Homo sapiens: one gene and its partners. The protein of the gene in region 1 interacts with the protein of each later gene in a pairwise test. Each region holds a gene or a part of one and is shown in the gene's direction. Other genes may lie near its edges. The genes, in order: ZNF114, KLHL2 and CLIP4.

What was found.
Region 2: the proteins of ZNF114 (region 1) and KLHL2 interact in binary tests that used the Homo sapiens proteins (3 or more experiments, as listed by UniProt).
Region 3: the proteins of ZNF114 (region 1) and CLIP4 interact in binary tests that used the Homo sapiens proteins (3 or more experiments, as listed by UniProt).

What each region holds. Positions count from the first base shown.
Region 1 is NC_000019.10:48,273,038-48,280,149, forward strand, and holds part of ZNF114 (zinc finger protein 114), read left to right. Parts: intron 1-1,514; exon of another isoform or gene 1,515-1,612; intron 1,613-6,693; 5' UTR 6,694-6,762; coding exon 6,763-6,771; intron 6,772-7,112. UniProt on the Homo sapiens protein: May be involved in transcriptional regulation.
Region 2 is NC_000004.12:165,315,468-165,322,579, forward strand, and holds part of KLHL2 (kelch-like protein 2), read left to right. Parts: intron 1-2,358; coding exon 2,359-2,502; intron 2,503-5,844; coding exon of another isoform or gene 5,845-5,858; exon of another isoform or gene 5,859-5,884; intron 5,885-6,564; coding exon 6,565-6,593; 3' UTR 6,594-7,112. UniProt on the Homo sapiens protein: Substrate-specific adapter of a BCR (BTB-CUL3-RBX1) E3 ubiquitin ligase complex that mediates the ubiquitination of target proteins, such as NPTXR, WNK1, WNK3 and WNK4, leading most often to their proteasomal degradation.
Region 3 is NC_000002.12:29,118,392-29,125,503, forward strand, and holds part of CLIP4 (CAP-Gly domain-containing linker protein 4), read left to right. Parts: intron 1-2,982; 5' UTR 2,983-2,997; coding exon 2,998-3,130; intron 3,131-7,112.

The sequences.
Region 1 (7,112 bases):
GCCCGCCTCGGCCTCCCAAAGGGCTGGGATTACAGGCGTGAGCCACAGCGCCTGGCCAGATAAAGAGCTTTGAGGGTTTGAGTTCCGTGTGCTGAACATGGTCTTTTATGGGAACTGAGACCTCAGCAGAGGAAATATATAAAAAGGACAAGCTGCAAGGAGAGTGGTGTGAAGGTGTCAGGATCAAACCCCACGGTCGGAACAAGATGCATTTTTATCACTAATCCGCTCCGGTGAGGTCTGATTTACTGGAACTCAGGGCAAAGGTGGGAATGTGTTTCATCAGCCAGGTATATCTTCGTCATGGACAATCAGGCAAAAGCCAACCTCAGCCTGCTCACCTGAGCTGACTCACAATGATGCGTTGTTTTTCTTTTTCTTTTCTTTTCTGTTTTTTTTTTTTTTAAACTACTGTCCTGAGCTGATGTGTCTGAGGTTACTAGGGTCAGAACCGGCGCTCCAATTGTATTGGGGAAAGGACGGAATTCAGGGAAACTTAAATTGAAATAGGCGGTTTTATCTTCTTAGGTAGGCTTACAGCTGAGATGCGTGTAATGGGGTTATCATCAGGTGTGGCTGTTTCCTTGGGAACTATAAGGTCAAGATAGACGTGGAATGTTGTGTCTCAAAAACTCTTATTTACAGCTCAGCCCCTGAGTTGCACAGGCTTGCTTCTGTGTCAAAGTGACTTGGATCCCCCAGGCAACAGTGGGGCTTTTCTTTTTTTTTTTTTTTTTTGAGACGGAGTCTCGCTCTGTCGCCCAGGCTGGAGTGCAGTGGCGTTATCTCGGCTCACTGCAAGCTCCTCCTCCCGGGTTCTCGCCATTCTCCTGCCTCAGGCTCCCGAGTAGCTGGGACTACAGGCGCCCGCCACCACGCCCGGCTAATTTTTTGTATTTTTAGTAGAGACGGGGTTTCACCGTGTTAGCCGGGATGATCTTGATCTCTTGACCTCGTGATCCGCCCACCTCGGCCTCCCAAGGTGCTGGGATTACAGGCGTGAGCCACCGTGCCTGGCCAATATATATGTATATATATTTTTATACATGTATATATATAAATGCATACACACACACATATATATAAATATATACACACATATATTTATGTGTGAGTGTCTATATATAAATTCAGCTTTTTCTCATATGATTAATTTAATTTTTAAATTATTAATGGTTTAGAAAAGTTTTGAGTCCGCAATTCATTGCTGACAGTGTCATGTAAACGTTTAGATTTGTCCTCAAATTGAGGGAACTTGCCATCAAGTTTCTTCCAAATATCATGTAAGTTGTAGATTTTATGGCATTCTAACATTTTATGAACAAATGACTCATCTTATACTATTTAAGTTGACCACAGTCATTAAACGGTCATCAGATGTCACATTTGGAGCAGGAAGAGTTTTGGGGGTTTGTTTTTGTTTTGTTTTAATAGAAAAAAACTTTTATATATATATATATATATATATATTTTTTTTTTTTTTTTTGAGACAGAGTTTTTCTCTTGTTATCCAGGCTGGAGTGCAGTGGTGCAATCTCGTCTCACCGCAACCTCTGCCTTCCAGGTTCAAGTAATTCTCCTGCCTCAACCTCTCTAGTAGCTGGGATTACAGGCATGTGCCACCATGCCGGGCTAATTTTGCATTTTTAGTAGTGATGGGGTTTCTCCATGTTGGTCAGGCTGACCTCGAACTCCCAACCTCAGGTGATCTGCCCGCCTCGGCCTCCCAAAGTGCTGGGATTACAGGCGTGAGCCACCACGCCTGGCCTAGAGTTATGTTTCTTTAGGCAGGATGCAAACACATTGTGTGCGTTTCTCTTCCAGGGCTCACACCCTCGAACTTGCCTCCCTTTGTTCATGACATTTACTAGTTGGAGTCCCTGGGTAGTCAGAATGGCAGAACGTCCACGCCTGTGCATTTGTGTGGTTGTTCCTTGTGTCGTTGAAAGTTAGACCTGGCCAGGCACGGTGACTCACGCCTGTGATCCCAGCACTTTGGGAGGCTGAGGTGGGAGGACTGCTTGACCCCAGGAGGTCAAGGCTACAGTGAGCTCTGATCACACCACTGCACTCCAGCCAGGGCAGCAGAGTGAGACCCTGTCTCAAAAAAGAAAGAAAGAGAGAAAGAGAGAGAGGAAGAGAGAAAGAGAGAGAGAAAAAGAGAGAGGAAGAGAGAAAGAGAGAGGGAAGGAAGGAAGGGAGGGAGGGAGGGAGGGAAAAAGAGAGAGGAAGGGAGGGAGGGAGGGAGACAGAAACATCCTAGGTTGGTCAGGCTTCGTGGCTTTAATCCCAGCACTTTGGGAGGCTGAGGCAGGATGATCGCCTGAGGTCAGGAGTTCAAGACCAGCCTGGCCAACATGATGAAGTCCTGTCTCTACTAAAACACACACACACACACACACACACACACACACACACACAAAATAGCCAGGCGTGGTGGTGGTCGCCTGTACTCCCAGCTACTTGGGAGGCTAAGACAGGAGAATCTCTTGAACCCAGAAAGCAGAGGTTGCAGTGAGCCAAGCTAGTGCCACTGCACTCCAGCCTGGGTGATAGAGCGAGACCTTGTCTTGAAACATATATAATAACAAAGAAAAATTTAAACAAAATAAAAATGAAAGATACATCGTAGGTGGTGTGTTCATCACATCAGTGTAACTATAATGGCTGTTTGTTGCCGGGCGCGGTGGCTCACTCCTGTAATCCCAGCCCTTTGGGAGGCCGAGGCAGGCAGATCACGAGGTCAGGAGATCGAGACCACGGTGAAACCCCGTCTCTACTAAAAATACAAAAAATTAGCAGGGCGCAGTGGCGGGCGCCTGTAGTCCCAGCTACTGGGGAGGCTGAGGCAGGAGAATGGGGTGAACCCGGGAGGCAGAGCTTGCAGTGAGCTGAGATCGCACCACTGCACTCCAGCCCGGGTGACAGAGTGAGACTCCATCTCAAAAAAAAAAAAGCTATAATGGCTGTTTGTCCCTGTACAAGTCAAGCTAACATTGGTGGGGTAGTTTCTGGAGGTGAGAGAGCCTCTTACCTCTTTTTTTTTTTTTTTTTTTTTTGAGATGGAGTTTCGCTCTTGTTGCCCAGGCTGGAGTGCAGTGGTGCAATCTCGGCTCACCGCAACCTCCGCCTCCCAGGTTCAAGTGATTCTCCTGCTTCAGCCTCCCGAGTAGCTGGGATTACAGGCGTGTGCCACCACACCCGGCTAATTTTGTATTTTTAGTAGAGACGGGGTTTCTCCATGTTGGTCAGGCTGGTCTCAAACTCCCTACCTCAGGTGATCTGCCTGCCTCAGCCTCCCAGAATACTGGGATTACAGCCTTAGGCCACTGCACCTGCAGAGCCTTACCTCTGAAAGTTGCATTCCTTTACGCCCAGCAAGTCCTGAGTGATGCCTCCGTACCCTGCTAATGACTGCCTCCCCTTTCTGTGTCCACCGACGTGTCTTATTTCCTGAATCAGTTGTTTTATTAAGGTTGCAAAATGATGATTTTTTTTTGTTGAGATAGGGCCTCATTCTGTCACCCAAGTTGGAGTGCAGTAGTGCAATCATAGTTCACTGCAGCATCAACCTCCTGGGCTCAAATGATCTTCCCACCCCACAACCTCCTGAGTAGCTGAGACTAGAGGCGCACGCCAGCGTGCCCACCTAATTTTTAAATTTTTTGTAGAGATGGGGCCTCGCTATGTTGCCCAGGGTGGTATCAAAATCCTGGGCTCAAGTGATCCTCCTGCCTCAGCCTCCCAACATGCTGGGATTATAGGTGTGAACCACCCAGCCCAGCCCAAAATGGTGATTTTTAAAAATATTCAATTGTCCCAACTAAACATGTAGCTGGGACTGGGCGTGGTGGCTCACGCCTGTAATCCCAGCACTTTGAGAGGTCGAGGCAGGCGGATCACCTGAGGTCAGAAGTTGAGACAAGCCTGGCCAACATAGTGAAACCCCGTCTCTACTAAAAATACAAAAATTAGCTGGGCGTGGTGGCCCAAGCCTGTAATCTCAGCTACTCAGGAGGCTGCTGAGGCAGGAGAATTGCTTGAACCCAGGAGGTGGAAGTTGCAGCGAGCTGAGATCGTGCCACTGCACTCCGGCCTGGGCGACAGAATGAGACCCTGTCTCAAAAAAAAATTTTTTTTAATATATATATTTTTGTTATATTAGCTGGGCGTGGTGGCAGGCGCTTGTGGTCCCAGCTACTTGGGAAGCTGAGGCAGGAGAATCACTTGAACTCAGGAGGCAGAGGCTGCTGTGAGCCGAGATCTCCCCACTGCACTCCAACCTGGATGACAGAATGAGACCTTGTGTCAAAAAATAAAAATAAAAAAATGAATATGTAGCTGGAATTCTGTAGTTTTCCGTCATCCGTAAGGCTATTCCGTTTCTTTTCTTATTGGAAAGGCAAAGTAAAGGCTTAATTTTTCCTCTTTATTAACCAAGGCTTGTGTTTTTTTCCCCCTCTGGTTTTCTCTGTCTGGGTATCATTATGAGCGCAGGTATTTTTAGTGTTCAGTGTGTTTCCATCAATTGCAATGATTCACTTTGTAGTTCAAATCCGGCCGCTGGGAGACGTTTCCAGCCGCTGTGCATCCTCCTAACGCGGTCTAGGGCAGCTCCCCTGCCATCTGGCACCGCAAGGCTCACACTGGGAATTTTCTGTTCCCAGATCAGCCATGTTTCCGAGGGTGTTCATTGCCTCCTGCTTCTTAATTCTTCTAAGCATTTTCTATGAATAGACTGACCAGGGAGGCATTGGGTGTGTGTGTGTGTGTGTGTGTGTGTGTGTGTGTGTGTGTTCGTGACGATATGAAGCCTTTTCATCTTATATTTGAAACTTTTTCCTCTTACACTAAAAATCTGACTTCCCAGTAACATGAACACTTTTCATCTTATATTTGAAATTTTTTTTTTTGAGACAGAGTCTCGCTCTGTTGCCCATGCTGGGGTGTGCAGTGGTGCGATCTCAGCTCACTGCAACCTCCACCTCCCAGATTCAAGTGATTCTCCTGCCTTCAGCCTCCCAAGTAGCTGGGATTACAGGTGTGCGCCACCACGCCCGGTTAATTTTTGTATTTTTAGTAGAGACAGGGTTTCGCCATGTTGGCCAGGATGGTCTCAAACTCCTGACCTCAAGTGATCCACCTGCCTCGGCCTCCCAGAGTCTTGGGATTACAGGCTTGAGCCAACGCGCCCGGCCCAATTCACCTTCTTAAAGGGTGCAATTCAATGGCTTTTAGTATATTCACAGACGTGTACGTCCCTCAAATTTAGAACATTTCCATCACCCCTGAAAGAAGCCCTGTATCCTTCAGTGGTCATCTCCCAGTCCCTCATCTCCCCCAGCCCTGGACAACCTCTGATCTGCTTTCTGTCTCTATAGATTCGCCTATTCTGGACATTTCATTTTCAATGGGGTCATACACTGTGGTCTTTTGTGTCTGGCTTCGTTCACTCAGCATCCTGTTTTCAGAGCTCACTGGGTTGTAGTGTGTGTCAGTGCCTCAGTCCGTTTTATGGCTGGGTAATATTCCATGGTGCGGATAGACCACGTTTGCTTTCTTTGTTCATGCATTGATCAGTATTGGGTTGTCTCTACTTTGGGCTGTAATGAATACCGCTATGGGCCAGGTGCGGTGCTCACACCCCTAATTCCAGCACTTTGGGAGGGCGAGGCGGGCGGATCACTTGAGGTCAGGAGTTCGAGACCAGCCTGGCCAGCATGGCGAAATCCCATCTCTACTAAAAGTACAAAAAATTAGCCAGGTGTGATGGCAGGCACCTGTAATGGCATCTAATCGGGAGGCTGAGACAGGAGAATCACTTGAACCAGGGAGGCGGAAGCTGCAGTGAGCTGAGATCGTGCTACTGCACTCCAGCCTGGGCAACAGAGTGAGACTCCGTCTCAAAAAAAAAAATTGCAATTAGATTAGCGGCTGCCAGCAGCTGGGTGAAGGGGAGAATGGGAAGTGACTGCTAAGGGGGATGGGGTTTTATTTTGCGGTGATGAAAAGTATTTGGAACTAGGTAGAGGTGACGTTTGTACAACATTGCAAATGCACTAAATGCCACTGCATTGTTCACTTAAAATGGTTAACTTCATGATATGCAAATTTCACCTCGATTAAAAAAAAATGCTGCTTGAGGCCAGGAATTTGAGACCAGCCTAGGCAACATAGTGAGACCCCATCTCTATGAAAATAAATATGAAAAATTAGGAGGCATGGGGGCCCATGCCTGTACCTTCAGCTACTCAGGAGGCTGAGGCAGGAGGATCACTTGAGCCCAGAAGTTTGAGGCTGTAGTGAGCCATGATTGCACTACTGCACTCCAGCCTGGGCAACAGGACAAGTCTCTGTCTCTAAAAAATTAAATTAAAATATAGGTGTGTGTGTGGGTGTCTGTGTGGGGGGCGGGGGTGGGGGGATGGGGGTGTGTGGGTGTGTGTGTGAGTGTGTGTGTGGGTGGGGGGATGGGGTGTGTGGGTGGGTGGGCGTAAGGGGGTTGGAGTGAGGGGATGGGGGTGTGTGGGTGTGTGGGTGGGTGGGTGTAGAGGGGGTGGGGGTTGTGGGCTGTGGTGGGGAAGTGTGTGCACACGTGCATTTATATGCTGAGATTAATGTCAGGCAGGATCCACATACGAGTGTGGGGAAGGCAGGGTGCCTGGATTCTCATAGCTCCATTCTTCTCCCAAGCTCTGCCTCACCTGCCTCCTTGAAGGAAACACGGGGAAGCCAGGACTGGCCGTCACGTTGGTGACAAATATGTCCCAGGTAAGTTGGCAGCTCACCCTCTCCCAGAAGCGTGTTGTCGTTCCCACGAGTCAATGTGCCTCTGCCTGTGGCTGGGAGTCAGGTAAAGCACATGGAGCCAGGCAGGGCCCCCCGCCAGCCGTGCTGCCCTAGGTCTCTGCACCTCTGCTTGGAGAGAGATGCTGCCCTGGGGATTCTCCTGGGACCACCCCCACCCCAGTACTGACTGGTCCTTTCCACACCTCATCCTGGCTGCCAGTGGGCTTCACGTTCTGCTGCAAAGCACACTAAGAAAGGAGCTGAAAGTGTCTTTGGTGGGGTGCAGTGGCTCAAGCCTGTAATTCCAGGACTTTGGGAGGGTG
Region 2 (7,112 bases), on another chromosome or scaffold:
AATCAGGAAGAGAGAGAAATCTGAAAGCTTACTTTTCAGTTTGTTTTTCCTTCTCAATCAATGATGTTTATTTTCTATGCAAATAACAAAATTTGAATTATTTACTTCTATAATTTACAAGATACAGTATAATCCAATTGAGCATATATTTTAAAATTATTTAAGTTCATAAGAGTATTTTAAAATCTCACCCTCATTCCATATTCCTGATAATCTGAAACAAACTTCTGATAAGATCTGTTCAGCTCTTCCTTTTTAATAACCTAGGCTAAGGACCTCATCCAAGCACCTAAATTATTGGAAAGAAAGAACTAAGCTGGCAAAGAGTGGAGGACATGTATTCAATGTTAAGCGGGGAGAGGTGAAAGCATCCATATAAATTTGAAATAGCAAGCAGCTTACAAGCCAGATTTCAAAAGTTTTCATAAGTATGGTAAATTATGACACCAAGAGTGGAGTAAAAATGAAATAAATTTGAATTAGATGATTATATATAGACCTTTAATACCTAGCACATCTGTAATAGGTTCTCAATATGAATTTGATTGTGTTGAAGTAAACTGAATAAACTGGAACCATCAAACACTGCAGGAAGGTGCATCCTTTTGGCAAAGTGATTTGGCTCCTATCGCCTAAAAGGAATCTGGTGTTGTGAGTTAGTGGGTTAGTAAAATTGATGTCTTCTGAATGTATAGCTAAGATATTCAAATGGATGTATGGACCAACCTCCCTTTCTGCAGTGGGATGCTCTTTAATCTGTGAGCCCCTCATAGATATGATTGGGAAAACTCTTTAGAACAATATAGTCTCCTTGTTCATGCCTTCCATCATAGCAGGGCCATTTTTGAGATCATTTTTTCTCTCACAGTCCTATGTTGTCCATCAATAGGCTGAAATACAGTGTTGCATACACATGTAACTACTGTGTGGAGCTTGTGTGGCAGCAGCATTTGATTCTTGCTTTTAAGTATTTGAACAACTTTAAAATGGTATGAGTTTTTTTCCTACAAAGTTTTGTAGATTTGGGCAGCATTATTCGGGATTCTTTGATGCCCTCTAGTATAAGTTCATAGTAGCACTGAACTTTTTATAAGAAATTAAATGTACTTTTAAAAAATTACATTGAAATAGCTTTTTAAAAGCATTTACCATTAGACTCAGCAGTTTTCCTTCTAATAATTTATATTAAGAAAAATTGCTCAAGTATTCAAAACACTGTTCAGGGGATCTTTGTTCATTGCAACATCATTGGTAACAGCAAAAAAATCAAAATTACTTAAATATCCATCAGTAAAAAAATGATTAAATAAACTGTCATACATAAAAATTACATTTATATTTATTAACTTGAGGAAATGTCCAAGGTAGGTTGGTTGGCCAGGGTGGGTAAGTTATTTAATAAAGTAGCATGTGTAGTGTGAGCTACTTTGGGGTTAAAAAAGAAAGTGTCTGAGTATATATGCATGGAGAAAAGTTAGCCAGAGTAGAGATCAAAATTTTAATGGTCATTATTCTAAGAGACATAAGGTTGGAGGTCATCTTTTTTTCTTATAATACTTTTCTAGATGTTTTGAATTTTTGCAAAGAAAAGAGTTATTTTAATAGATAAATAATATTGTTCTCTTTAAAGGGAGATAAAATAGCTAACCATTCAGTGTGATAATTAAAATTAAGAATATTTTTACCTTCTACTAACATATATTTTCTTCCTTAAGATTCCCTAAGTAGCTGACTTTGACTTTTTATTAAAAAAAAAAAAATGAGGGTCAAAATAGTTTCTAACCTATAATGTTGTGAAAATTAGGTAGAATAATGCATATATAAAGTAACTACTGCATAAATGACACTCAGTAGGAGCTTAGAAGTGGTATTATGGTCTCCTAATATAGAAAGAATTCTTTTTTTTTTTTTTGGAGACAGAGTCTCACTCTGTTGCCCAGGCTGGAGAGCAGTGGTGTGGTCTTGGCTCTCTGTAGCCTCTGCCTCCCTGGGTTCAAGTGATTCTCCGGCTTCAGCCTCTTGGAGTAGCTGGGACCACAGGCACACTCCCCCATGCCTGGCTGATTTTTGTATTTTTAGTAGAGATGGGGTTTTGCCATGTTGCCCAGGCTCATCTCGAACTCCTGACTTCAAGTGATCTGCCCACCTTGGCCTTCCAAAGTGCTGGGATTACAGGCGTGAGCCATGGTGCCTGGCTATCCTAATATAAAACGAATTCTTTTCATGCTCACTATTTTCTCTTCTTGCCTCCTTTCAAAGAAATTAGTGTCTCTGGATTACCTCACTAAACATGTACAGTGATACTCATATTCATCCCAATTTTTTAAATAATTGTTTTCTCTCTGTAATTTTTTAAAGGAGTTTGTGCAGTTAATGGTCTGTTATATGTTGTTGGAGGGGATGATGGTTCCTGTAACTTGGCGTCAGTAGAATATTATAACCCAACAACCGATAAATGGACAGTTGTGTCATCGTGTATGAGCACAGGGAGAAGTTATGCAGGTAACAGTTGTCTCTAAAGTCAATTTCCGTACAAAAAGATGACCTCATTATGAATGTTATATTAACGAAGTTTTTCTGTTATAAGAATAAAGTCTTTTCTCAAGGTATAGTTTATATCTTATTCTTAAGATGATTAACATTGGCTGTGTATATTCTGAAATAAAGCACCAGTATACTTTTGTCATTCTACAGTCATTTGTATTCAAAATCCCAAATCTTTGATATACAAAATCATATAATAAAATTTAATGTAGCTAAAATCTGTATGCAGAGGAGAAGAATTCATATGTGGCAAGGCTTTAATTCCTGAGATGTCCAAGAAATAGGATAGGATTCCTACATCTCCCCATGGTGTGGCTCCATGAGATAGTATTATAGTGAGGCTGTGGAATAATTTTTCTTTCTTAAGCATAGTACTGGTTGAGTTATAAAATGTGATTTTTTGGTCCATTCTCTTAGTAAGATAAATGTTAATTTTAATAAATATTATGGTGAGTCTTTATGTTATTTATTTCAATTATATTTATCTTGCTTTTAATAGTATAATGTTTCTGTAACAAAATTGATCCAATAGTGGAGGAAGAAAATGTTTAAGCTCATTAACCATCACTGTTGCTTATGTATCATTCAAAACAGTACTGAGAAGAACTATGTACAGTAGAATTCCAGTATAACATGGGTGAATATTAGATGAATTTTTAAAACAACTTCATTGAGGTATAAACTGACAGAATACATAGCGTACAGTTGACCCTTGGACAACACAGGTTTGAACTGTGTATGTCCACTTACATGTGGATTTTTTTCAATAATTATGTTGGAAAAATTTTTTTGGAGATTGGTAACAGTTTGAAAAAACTCAGATGCACTGCATAACCTAGAAATATTGAAAAAATTAAGTTTAAGATTATGAACACATAAAATATACGTAGATACTAGTCTGTTTTATCATTTACTACAAAATATCTACAAATCTGTTACAAAAAGTTAAAATTTATCAAAACATATGCACACAAACTCTTATGGGAACAAACACCCACAAACCATAGATGGTGTCATTCACAGTCCAGAGAAATGTGAACAAACCACAAAGATACAATATTAAATCATAACTGCATGAAATTAACTGTAGTATGTTACTGTACTACTATAATAATTTTATAGCCGTCTCCTGTTGCTGTATTGGTGAGCTCAGCTGTTGTGAGTATCCACTTAAAAAGCTGTGGGGGGCTAATTACCTTTGAAAGAGCAGTTTGTCTCTTCAGCGATGCGTATCTCAGTAAAAAGTTCTCTCTCATGGTTCTGCCTTATTTTTCATCATGTTTACTGCAATATCATAAACCTTGAATAATACCATGGGACCCATACAAAGTGCCACCGGTGATGGTGCTAGGAAGTGCTTCAACGAAGCAGAGAAGAGTCATGACATTACAAGAAAAAGCTGAATTGCTTGAGATATACCATGGATTGAGGTCTGCTGCTGCACTTGCCCACCATTTCAAAATAAATGAATCCAGGGTAGGGATCATTGTAAAAAGGAAAAAGGAAATTCATGAAGCCGTCCCTGCAGCCATCCCAGCAGTTTTGAAAACTTCACACTTTTTGTGAAATCCCTTTTTATCTTGTGTTGAACATGCAGCTTTTATGTGGGTGCAGGATTTTTGTTTTTGAGACAGAATCTCACTCTTGTCGCCCAGGCTGGAGTGCAACAGCGTGATCTCAGATCACTGCAACCTCCGCCTCCCAGATTCAAACGATTCTCATGCCTCAGCTTCCTGAGTAGCTGGGATTACAGGGATGTGCCACCACACCTGGCTAATTTTTAAATTTTTATTATTTTTATTATTTTTGACTTTTTGGTTTTGGTTTTTGGTGGGTGCAGGATTGCTGTAAGAAAGGCATACCTGTCAACTCTAATATGATTTGAGAAAAAGGAAAGTCATTATGTGACAACCTGAAGCAAAAGGAAGGTGAAGGATCTAAAGCTGGAGAATTTCCTCAGCCTACTCAAGCAAAGGATGACTTGATAATTTTGGAAAGGGGTTTGGCTCAAAAAATGTCAAGATAACAGGAGAACACTTCTGTCAACCAAGGGGCCAGCAGATGAGCTCCCAGATGCCATGAAGAAAGTTGTTGAGGAGAATGGATATCTGCCTGAACAAGTTTTTAATGCAGACAAATGTGCCACCAGGGACATTTATTAGGAAGATAAGCAAGCACCAGAATTTAAGGCAGAAAGGGATAAGCTAACTCTACTATTTTGTGCAAATGCAGTTGGGTTTATGATTTGGACTGCTCTTATCTAAAAAGTTGCTAACCCCCAATCCTTGAAGGGAAAATATAAATACCAGCTGCCAGTCTTTTGACTGTATAACAAGAAGGCCTAGACAAGAAATCTTTTCCCGGACTGGTTCCATCTATGCTTCAGGTTCAGGAAGTACCATGCCAGTAAGGGACTGCTTTTTATTTTGATATTGGACAGTGCCCTTGGCCACCCAGAACCCCATGAGTTCAACACCAAAGGCATAGAAGTGGTCTACTTGCCCCTAAACACAATGTATCTAATTCAGCCTCTAGATCAGTGACCATAGGAACCTTAAAGTTTCATTATACATGGCACTCTATGGAAAAAATTGCCAGTGCTATGGAAGAGAATCTCAACAGAGAAAACATGAAAGTCTGGATGGATTACACCATTGAATATATCATTGTTATAGAAAAAGCTATGAAAGTCATCAAACCCAAAACAATAAATTCCTGCTGGAAAAAAACTGTGTTCAGATGTTGTGTATGACTTCACAGGAGTTATGACAGAGCCAGTCAAAGAAATCATGAAAGAGATCATGGATGTGGCTATAAAGGTTGATGGTGAAGGGTTTCAAGGTATGGATCTTGGAGAAATTCAAGAGCTAATAGATACCAAACCAGAGAAATTAACAGAACATGACTCGACGGAGATGAGTGCTTCTTAACCACTGCCAGACAATGAAGAAGATGTAGAAGCAATGTCAGAAAACAAATTGACATTAGACAGTCTGGCAAAAGGGTTTGGTTATTCAAGACTGTTTATGACTTACTTTATGAAATGGGCCCTTCTATGATATGTGCACTGTAACTGAAGAAAGTAGTGGAAAGACGATTGGTATTATGTGGAAACATTTTTAGAGAAATGAAAAAAACAAAAAAGTCAGACAGGAATTAACAGTGTATTTCCTTAAAGTTGCACCAAGTGTGTCTGCCTCTCCTGTTTCCCCTGCCTTCCCTTCCACCTCCTCCACCTCTTCTGCCTCTGCCACCCCTGAAACAACAAGACCAACCTCTCCTCTTTCTCCTCCTCCTCAGCCTGCTCAATGTGAAGAGACAAGGATGAAGACCTTGATGATGATCCACTTCCCCTTAATGAATAGTAAATATAGTTCCTCTTCCTTATGACTTTTTAAATAACATTTCCTTTTCTGTAGCTTACTTTAAGAATACAATATATAACACATAACATGTTATGACATACATAACATATATTACATGTAAAATATGTGTTAATTGACTGTATCAGTAAGGCGTTTGGTCAACTGTAAGCTATTAGTAATTAAATTATGCGGGAGTAAAAAATTATACATGGGTTTTTGACTGCGTGGAGGGTCAGCACCCCTGACCCCCATGTCGGTTCAAGGGTCAACTGTATATTTAAACTATATAATTTTATTACTTTTGACAGAGTATATACCCATGAAACCATCACCACAATCAAGATAATGAACATATCCATCATGCTCAAAAGTTTCTGTGTTCCCTTTTGAGTATATTTTCCAAATTGTAACTACAAAGAGGAAAAGACTAGTTCTGGATTAAATAGTCTTATATTTAACTAGCCCATAACTAAACAGAGTTTTCACTGTCATTTAGATTCAAATGATAATACTACTAAAGTTTAAGAAAGAGATTCTGAAACATGATTTGTACAGTTCCTCCTGCCTTCGTATTATAATGAAGAATTGAGTGTTTTCTCAGAGATACAGAGTGCTGCCTGTGACTTCTTTTTTCTCTCTTCATTTCTTTGCTCAGGGGTCACAGTTATTGATAAACCATTATGAGCCTGAAGGACATTTTCAGCATATTTATACATGAGAAACAGCCTTCAACAAGTATTTGTGAAGTGACTGAGAATCTAGCACTTCTCCACTTGTAGCTGCACTTTAAGTCTCAGCAGAAGATACGATCGTCTGCCTTTATAGGCCTCAGATACTGAAGATTATTTTTGGTAGAAGCACCGTGTAGGCTTTTTCTGCAATGAGCAGCAGCTGACTGAATTTTCATAAGAAACTTGGACTGCAGGACTTAATCTGTAGTCTTTAGACAACAGTTGCTTTCATAAAGACTAGTTCTTATCAACCTTGAATGACTACAGATTATTTTGTGAAGGAGGATGAAGTAATGTGTGTTCTTGTAAAATTAAATTTTATCTTTATTTCTTCTAAAAATCTGTATACCAGGAACTGAAAATCTTTGAACAGATATTAAAATCTACGTAAGTATACAAACTAGTTGAGGGATACACTGTTTGCTTTTATAAAATAACTTTGATTACATGAATATAATAAATTATGTGCATA
Region 3 (7,112 bases), on another chromosome or scaffold:
TGCTAACAGCTAACTTGGAGTGATGAGTAGGGTGAAATTCCTATAGAAATCAGAGTTTGGGGAATTTGATTCTAGCTATTGTTAGTATCAGAGGCACCTGTTCTGTAGACAGTTGATTAGTGCCAATTTTTTTTTTTTTTTTTTGAGATGGAGTTTCGCTCTTCTTGCCCAGGCTGGACTGCAGTGGCGGGATCTCGGCTTACCGCAATCTCTGCCTCCCAGGTTCAAGCGATTCTTCTGCCTCAGCCTCCTGAGTAGCTGGGATTACAGGTGCCCTCCACCATGCCCAGCGAATTTTTTGTATTTTTAGTAGAGATGGGGTTTTGCCATGTTGGTCAGGCTGGTCTCGAATGCCTGACCTTGGGTGATCCACCTGCCATGGCCTCCGAAAGTGCTGGGATTACAGGTGTGAGCCACCATGCCTGGCAGGGCCAATATATATATATATATTTTTAACCTGAGGCTTACTTTATAATCAGTTATCACCAGTTAACCATAGTTGGATTTGGAATGAAAGTGTGTACTCAGTTCAGATCAGTATACTTAGACATTTGACCAAGAGTCCAGGTGTTGTAGGTCTTCAGATCCAGGAATTGCTTTTAGGAAATGAATCTGAGACTATAAGGAAGTTTATAGGGGTACATAGTTTCCTTTGGGAGGACAAAAGGTAGAATGTTAAGTTTTTCACGAAAATAAGGAAATGTAACTAGAGAAAAACGCAACAAAGACAAAATACAAAGAATGTTCACTGCATTGGTCAGGTAATATTGTAGCTTCTTCTGGACTTGAAGTATCTAATATGTAAAAGAATGAAGCTGGTTACATCTGATTGCATGAATCCTCTTTCCACTTTGAATCTAAGCTTTGAATATTAGTTAAATATGTGTAACACACTATTCTAGCTCCTGTGGTGACTGCTAGTTGTGTACGATAGAGTTCGTATCTTTGAGGATCTCAACAGTTTACAAGGAAATGAAAGGTGCTCTGGGGATCACTTAAAATTTTTTTTTTTGAATGGGAGACTCCACCCTTTGAAAGGGAAGTCATGTGGTGACTCCTCTTAACCGACTCAGACAGATATCCACTGAATCTTTTTGCTGAAGAATTAAGAGTATAAAAACATGTCTGAGTCCCAAACCGTGATTATAGTCAGATTAATTTTCCTAAAACAGCTTTAATCATGTTACTCTCTTTAAAAAAATCAGTAGTTTCCCAGTGCTCATGAAAGTAAGTGGTTTGGTCTTTGATGAGGTATTTGCTCCTCAGTACAGCCCTAAAAAGCCCTTACAGCCTCACCTCTGACTGTTTTCCTAGTCATATCCCAAGTTCCAGCCTACTGTTCTTTTAATGGGATCCCCTTTTATATTGATACCTATTCATCATTCAAGACTCATCACAGATGATACCTTCTTCACCATTTATGATTCTTAGAAGCTCCAACTGCAAATGTTCCTGGTACTTATGTGATGGAGCAGATCCCATTCTGCCTCATAATCTATAGTTATTAGTGGTATTTTATTCACCTTAATAGATTGTAAACTACCTAAGAAGCATGGACCATCTGTTAACTCATTTTTGTATTTGCTGAAACATCTAGAATAGTGTCTTGTATATAGTGGTTCCTTAATAAATACTCATTACTGTTTGGAATTGATAGTATTTGAGGAAGATCACCGCTGCTCTATAACACTAATTCCATGAACTTGTCATTTTCCTATTTATGTGGCAAGGTTAATGTCAAAATGCTTCTAAGTATTTGGTGGTAAGTAATTTTAGCATCCAAGAAAATGTGAATACCTTAAAATAGTAACAACTGGATTAGGTTACCTAATATATAACATCTATATCCATATAAGCATACGATTTTTGAGGAAAAAGAAAGCCTCCTACTTTTTACCAGTTCCTGCCAGTATTAAGAAAACATGAATCAAGTTAGGAAGACAACAGTGAGCTCAATGAAATGACTGTTTTATTGTAGTGGGGAACTGATGGTAAGGATAATTGAGTTAGATATAGGGTTGGTTAAGTAGAACAGAGCACACATTAAGTAGTAGCTAGTATGGTGTTGTCTACTACCAGATCAAGCCATTGATTACCTATTTTTATTCTGTGCTTTCTACTGAAATAATCTAAACTCATTTTTCATTTAGTTTTATAATGTTTTGCTTACATTTTAAAAACAGGAATTCATGATACTTCAGATAGTAAAGATCGGATACAAAAGAAACTGGAAGGCTTTTAGCTTCATAAGTTTGGTTTTACTAGCAGTTTCTCTGCTTTCTACATCATTTCTGAGATGTAGGCTAGGGTGTAGTACAAAGTCTAATTTAGAGCAAATTTATTCTAAGCACTCATGTTTTCTGGGAAAAAGAGGTAATATAAGCCATGTGCTTTAAAAGGCATGGCTTCCATCTTTGGCCAGGATAGAACTCACATACCTCGGACCTTGTTAAGTTGAACAATCTTAGTAAACTCTTAGATTTGTAAGAGGGATATGATTAATTTTCAGTAAAGTTTTCTGGGATAGAAAATAATGGAAACATTTTAAGGTAGATTATCTTCATGTGATGAGCACATGGCATGAGCTATTGGATGACAAATGATGTAACTTGTGCCAGTGTTATGGGAAGTTAAAGATCCATCTACAAGGGTTAATACGCCCTTGTTTGTTACATGAGTAGGAGGATTTCACCCATTTAGATTAGCTCAGCATTTAAAGTGTTTTCACCTATTTTATATTCCTTTTGAGCTTTGTCTAGAGAGATTACATGTGCTACCGACTGGTATAAGAGGTGGTGTGAAGCAATGTATGCCTTTTAACAACAGTTTTGCCAAAAGGAATTTTTTCCCTTTCATAAAAGATCCTTACTGAAAATGTCAGCAGATTTGACGTCAAATAACTTTTAGGCAGTTATTGAAGGCAGTCATTCTAAGTTGCATACAAATAAAGTAGAAACACTTTTTTTTTCTTTCTTATTATAGGTGGCTTTCTAGAAGATGACCATAGAGGACCTTCCAGATTTTCCATTAGAAGGAAATCCTTTGTTTGGAAGATACCCATTTATATTTTCTGCTTCTGATACCCCAGTTATCTTTTCCATTTCTGCAGCACCAATGCCTTCAGACTGTGGTATGTGAAGTAGCTGTGCTTATTTTCTGTGAACTGGTAACTTGACTTCTCTGTTACGCCTTTTTTGCACTCATAGTCTTTCTTAGAACCATTTTTATGGTTTTCATAAAATTGCTAAAGTTTTCCTTTTTCAAAAATACAATTGCTTATTGCTTTTTCTGCTTCTTAAGCTAAATGCTTTATTTCTGCTGTCAGCATTTATATTATGTTAAAATGTTCATTTTAAGCATCATGATGGATTTAGAGGACTTTATTTTTAGAAAGCAATGGTGCTTAGATATCTAGCATTCTTCTGCTATTGATGTATTTATTTTGGTTAAATATACTGACTTGCTAAAAAAGCCATGTACTTAGGCAAAGAGGGTAAGAGACCCTTCCCTGGAATGTGAAATGAGATTGGTTAATGTTTAAATTGGTCCATTTACATCTCCTCTGTAAAATGTTAATTTAGAAGCATTCCACTTCTCATCTATTTAGGCTTATTTCTCCAGAACCATAATAAAAGGGAACCAGGAGATAAATTTGATAGAATTGTTAAATTTCCAGTTTAGAGTTTTTCAAGTAAAATGTTGGTTCACCATTTCAAATTGTTTTTGGAGGTAGAGATCATACAATTTTTACATATTAGTAGATATTAGTAGATATAAAGTTATTGGACTGAGAATTTGTCTTTTTAGTCATATTCGTTGTAGTATAGTAATTCCTCATCTCCAAGTTTCTTTTTTTTTTTTTTTGTATTCAGATTCTTTAGCAGCTTACCTAGACCAGTCGTCAGAAGTATTATATAAAACCTGTGCCTTGATCTTGGGAGTTATCTGCAGGTTTTGCAGTAATCAACTGGGCTTATTTTCAGATATAACAAAATCAGTTATGCAGGGGAAACCTTGAACCTTGTGCATTGTACCTTAGGTATGATACTTGTCTCACTCCATCTTGACTTCTAATTGTCTTATTTTCTTTCCTATATTGTAGCGCTTTGGGATGGAGAACAATCATTTTATTTTTGTTTATCTCAAAAAGGCTAATATAGTCATTTGTTATTAGTTGCTCAATGATTGTTGAATAAATACATTGAATGAAAGGTAATAATGGATATTGACATTTTGCATAACTGGAATTAAACGTTGAAACCCCGTCTCTACTAAAAATACAAAAATTAGCCAGGCATGGTGGTGTGCGCCTATATTGTCAGCTACTCAGGAGGCTGAGGCAGGAGAATCACTTGAACCAGGAGGCAGAGGTTGCAGTGAGCTGAGATCGCATCACTGCACTCCAGCCTGGGCCACAGAGTGAGACTTTGTCTCCAAAAAAAAAAAAAAAAAAAAAAAAGCATTGTAGTCTTAGAATTATAGGTTTTTGTAGACTCTTATGAACCTTTCCCCACTCACCTCCCTGTGTAGACATCATATTTTCAGGATCTCTGTCAGATAACCATTTAACCTCTTGCATGTCTTCAATAGTGGGAAACTAACAAAATAGTTAATTTTATTGTTAAAAAGCTTTAGTTGTAATAAAATTGTTTTCGTATGTTGACTCAAAATTGGTCTCCCTGAAATTTTGGCCAAGTGATTCTAGTTTGATACATGGCACAAATTCCTTTATAGGATAGCCTTTAAGTATCTGCAGATAGTTTGAACATTTTAACTTAGCCTGAAACTCCTTAGGCTACACATTTCTGTTTCCTTCACCAGTTTCTCATTGTCAGGATTTCTAGACCCTTTTCATCGTAGCTGCTTTCTTGGTACACTGTGGTCAGTCTCCCCTTGAAAAGCGGCATATATAATTGCATTTATTGAGCAAGTATTTATTGAGGGCCTCTTGTGTGCTAGGGACTGTCCTGGATGCTGGAGATATCAGTGACCAAGACAGGTCTTCTATAGGGAAGACCAGTAAACAAACAAATGAATAGACAAAGCAAAAATAGGTCATAATGAATTCTGTGGAAGAAAGAAACAGGGTGCTGTGATAGAGAACAATGGGGGCAAGGCAGCTGCTTTAGATGGGGTGGTCATTCGGAGAATCAGAAGAGGCTGGCTGTGAGAAGAGCCTGGGAAGAAGTGTTCCAGGAAGGAAAACAGAAAACTAAAGGCACAGTGTTGAGGGAAGACCTTGGTATATCCTAAGAATTAATGGAAGGTCTTTGTGGCTGAGAAGCAAAGTGATTGATGGCAGAGTGGGAGGAGAAGGAATTGGAGAGTAAGACACCGGCCAGGTCATGCGGGGTCATGTAGGCCCCCATAGGGAATTTTTATATAATACCAACTAATGAGTGTAAAACAAAGAAACAAAAAGAAACCAGTCCACAGAAACCAGAGTTGAGGCATGTGACTCAGTGTTGACTCTCAAGGTGATTACCCTGTGAAACTATGTACTGTTCTTGCATAACAATTTTTGGAATCTTTTGCTTTGAAATGCCTTCAGAATCAGTTCATGCAGAATACACATTATATACATTATAAATACCAAAATACCTTATTATATATTTTGCTTAAACATTGAATTATCTGTTAAATTTAAATAATATAAAAAAATCTCATTTACCCATGTAGTTACCATTTCTAGTGCTCTTCATTCCTTTGTGAGTGTAGGTCCAGATTTCCATCTGATACCATTTCCTTCCGCCTGAAGCACTTCCTGTAATGTTTCTTATGGTGCTGGTCTGCCAGTGATGAATTCTTTCAGCTGTTTTATGTCTGAAAACATCTTTATTTACCTTATTTTTTTGAAAAATGTGTTTGCTGGGTTTAGAATTATAGGTTGGTAGTTTTCTTTCAGTACTTGAAAGATCTTGCTCTGCTCTCTTCCCATTTGCATTGTTTCTGCTGTCATTTTTGTTTCTCTAGATGTAATGTCTTTTTTTTGGCTGCTTTAAAGAGTTTTTATTTTGAGCAATTTTACTATTATGTGCTTAGGTATTGTTTTCTGTATGTTCTTGTGCTTGGGTTTGGTTGAGCTGCTTGGATCTGAGTTTCAGTTTTCATTAAGTTTGGGAAATCATTTAAAAAAATTTTTTGTCTGCTTCTCCCCGTTTTCAGATACTGTAATTGCATGTATATTATAGACTGCTTGAAGTTGTCCCATAACTCACTGATTTATTTTATATTTAAACATTTTTTTCTCTTTATTTTGGATAGTTTATATTACTGCATCTTCAAGTTCATTAATCTTTCCTTCTGCAGTGTCTAATTAATTAGCTGCTGATTTTTTCCAGTGCAGTTTTCATTTCAGATGAAGTTTTCATCTCTAAAGTTTGCTTTGGCTCTTTTTTATGCCCAGGTCTCTTCTCCACCTTTGAACATTTGGAATAGAGTTATATTGACTGTTTTAATGTCCTTCTCTGTTAATTATAATATCCATGTCAACTCTAGGTCTATTATTCCCCTGATTATGGGTCATGTTTTCTTCTTTCTTTGCTTGCCTGATAATCTTTAATTGGCTGCCAGACATTGTGAATTTTACCTTGTTAGATGCTGGATATTTTTGTATTCCTGTAAGTATTCTTGAACTTTGTTCTGGGATACAGTTTAGTTACTTGGAAATAGTTGGACCCTTTGAGGTCCTACTTTTCTGATTTGTTAGGTGGGTCTGGAGCCATTCTTGGCCTGGGGCTAATTGTTCCCTACTACTGAGAATTCCACTCCAGGGGCCCTGAACCCCCTGGCTACGGACTGGTACTGGTCCCCCTACCCCGGCCCCTGGTGCCAGAAAGATTGGGGACTGCTGTTCTACTCAATGCTGTGTGAATTATGAGGATTCTTTTTCAATCTTCCTTGTGAGAATAGGCACTAATCCCTGTAGTCCTTATGGATGGTTCTTTCCCTTACTTCAAGTATTTCCTCACAAGCATATGATGAATAGTTGAGGAGGACCCTGCACAGGTCTCTGGGTTTCTCTTGGAGTGTGTGCATCCATCTCTGCTGTATTCTGCCCTGTGACCTCTGGCCGCCTCAAGTTCCCCAGACTCTTAGCTCTGTCTCCTCGA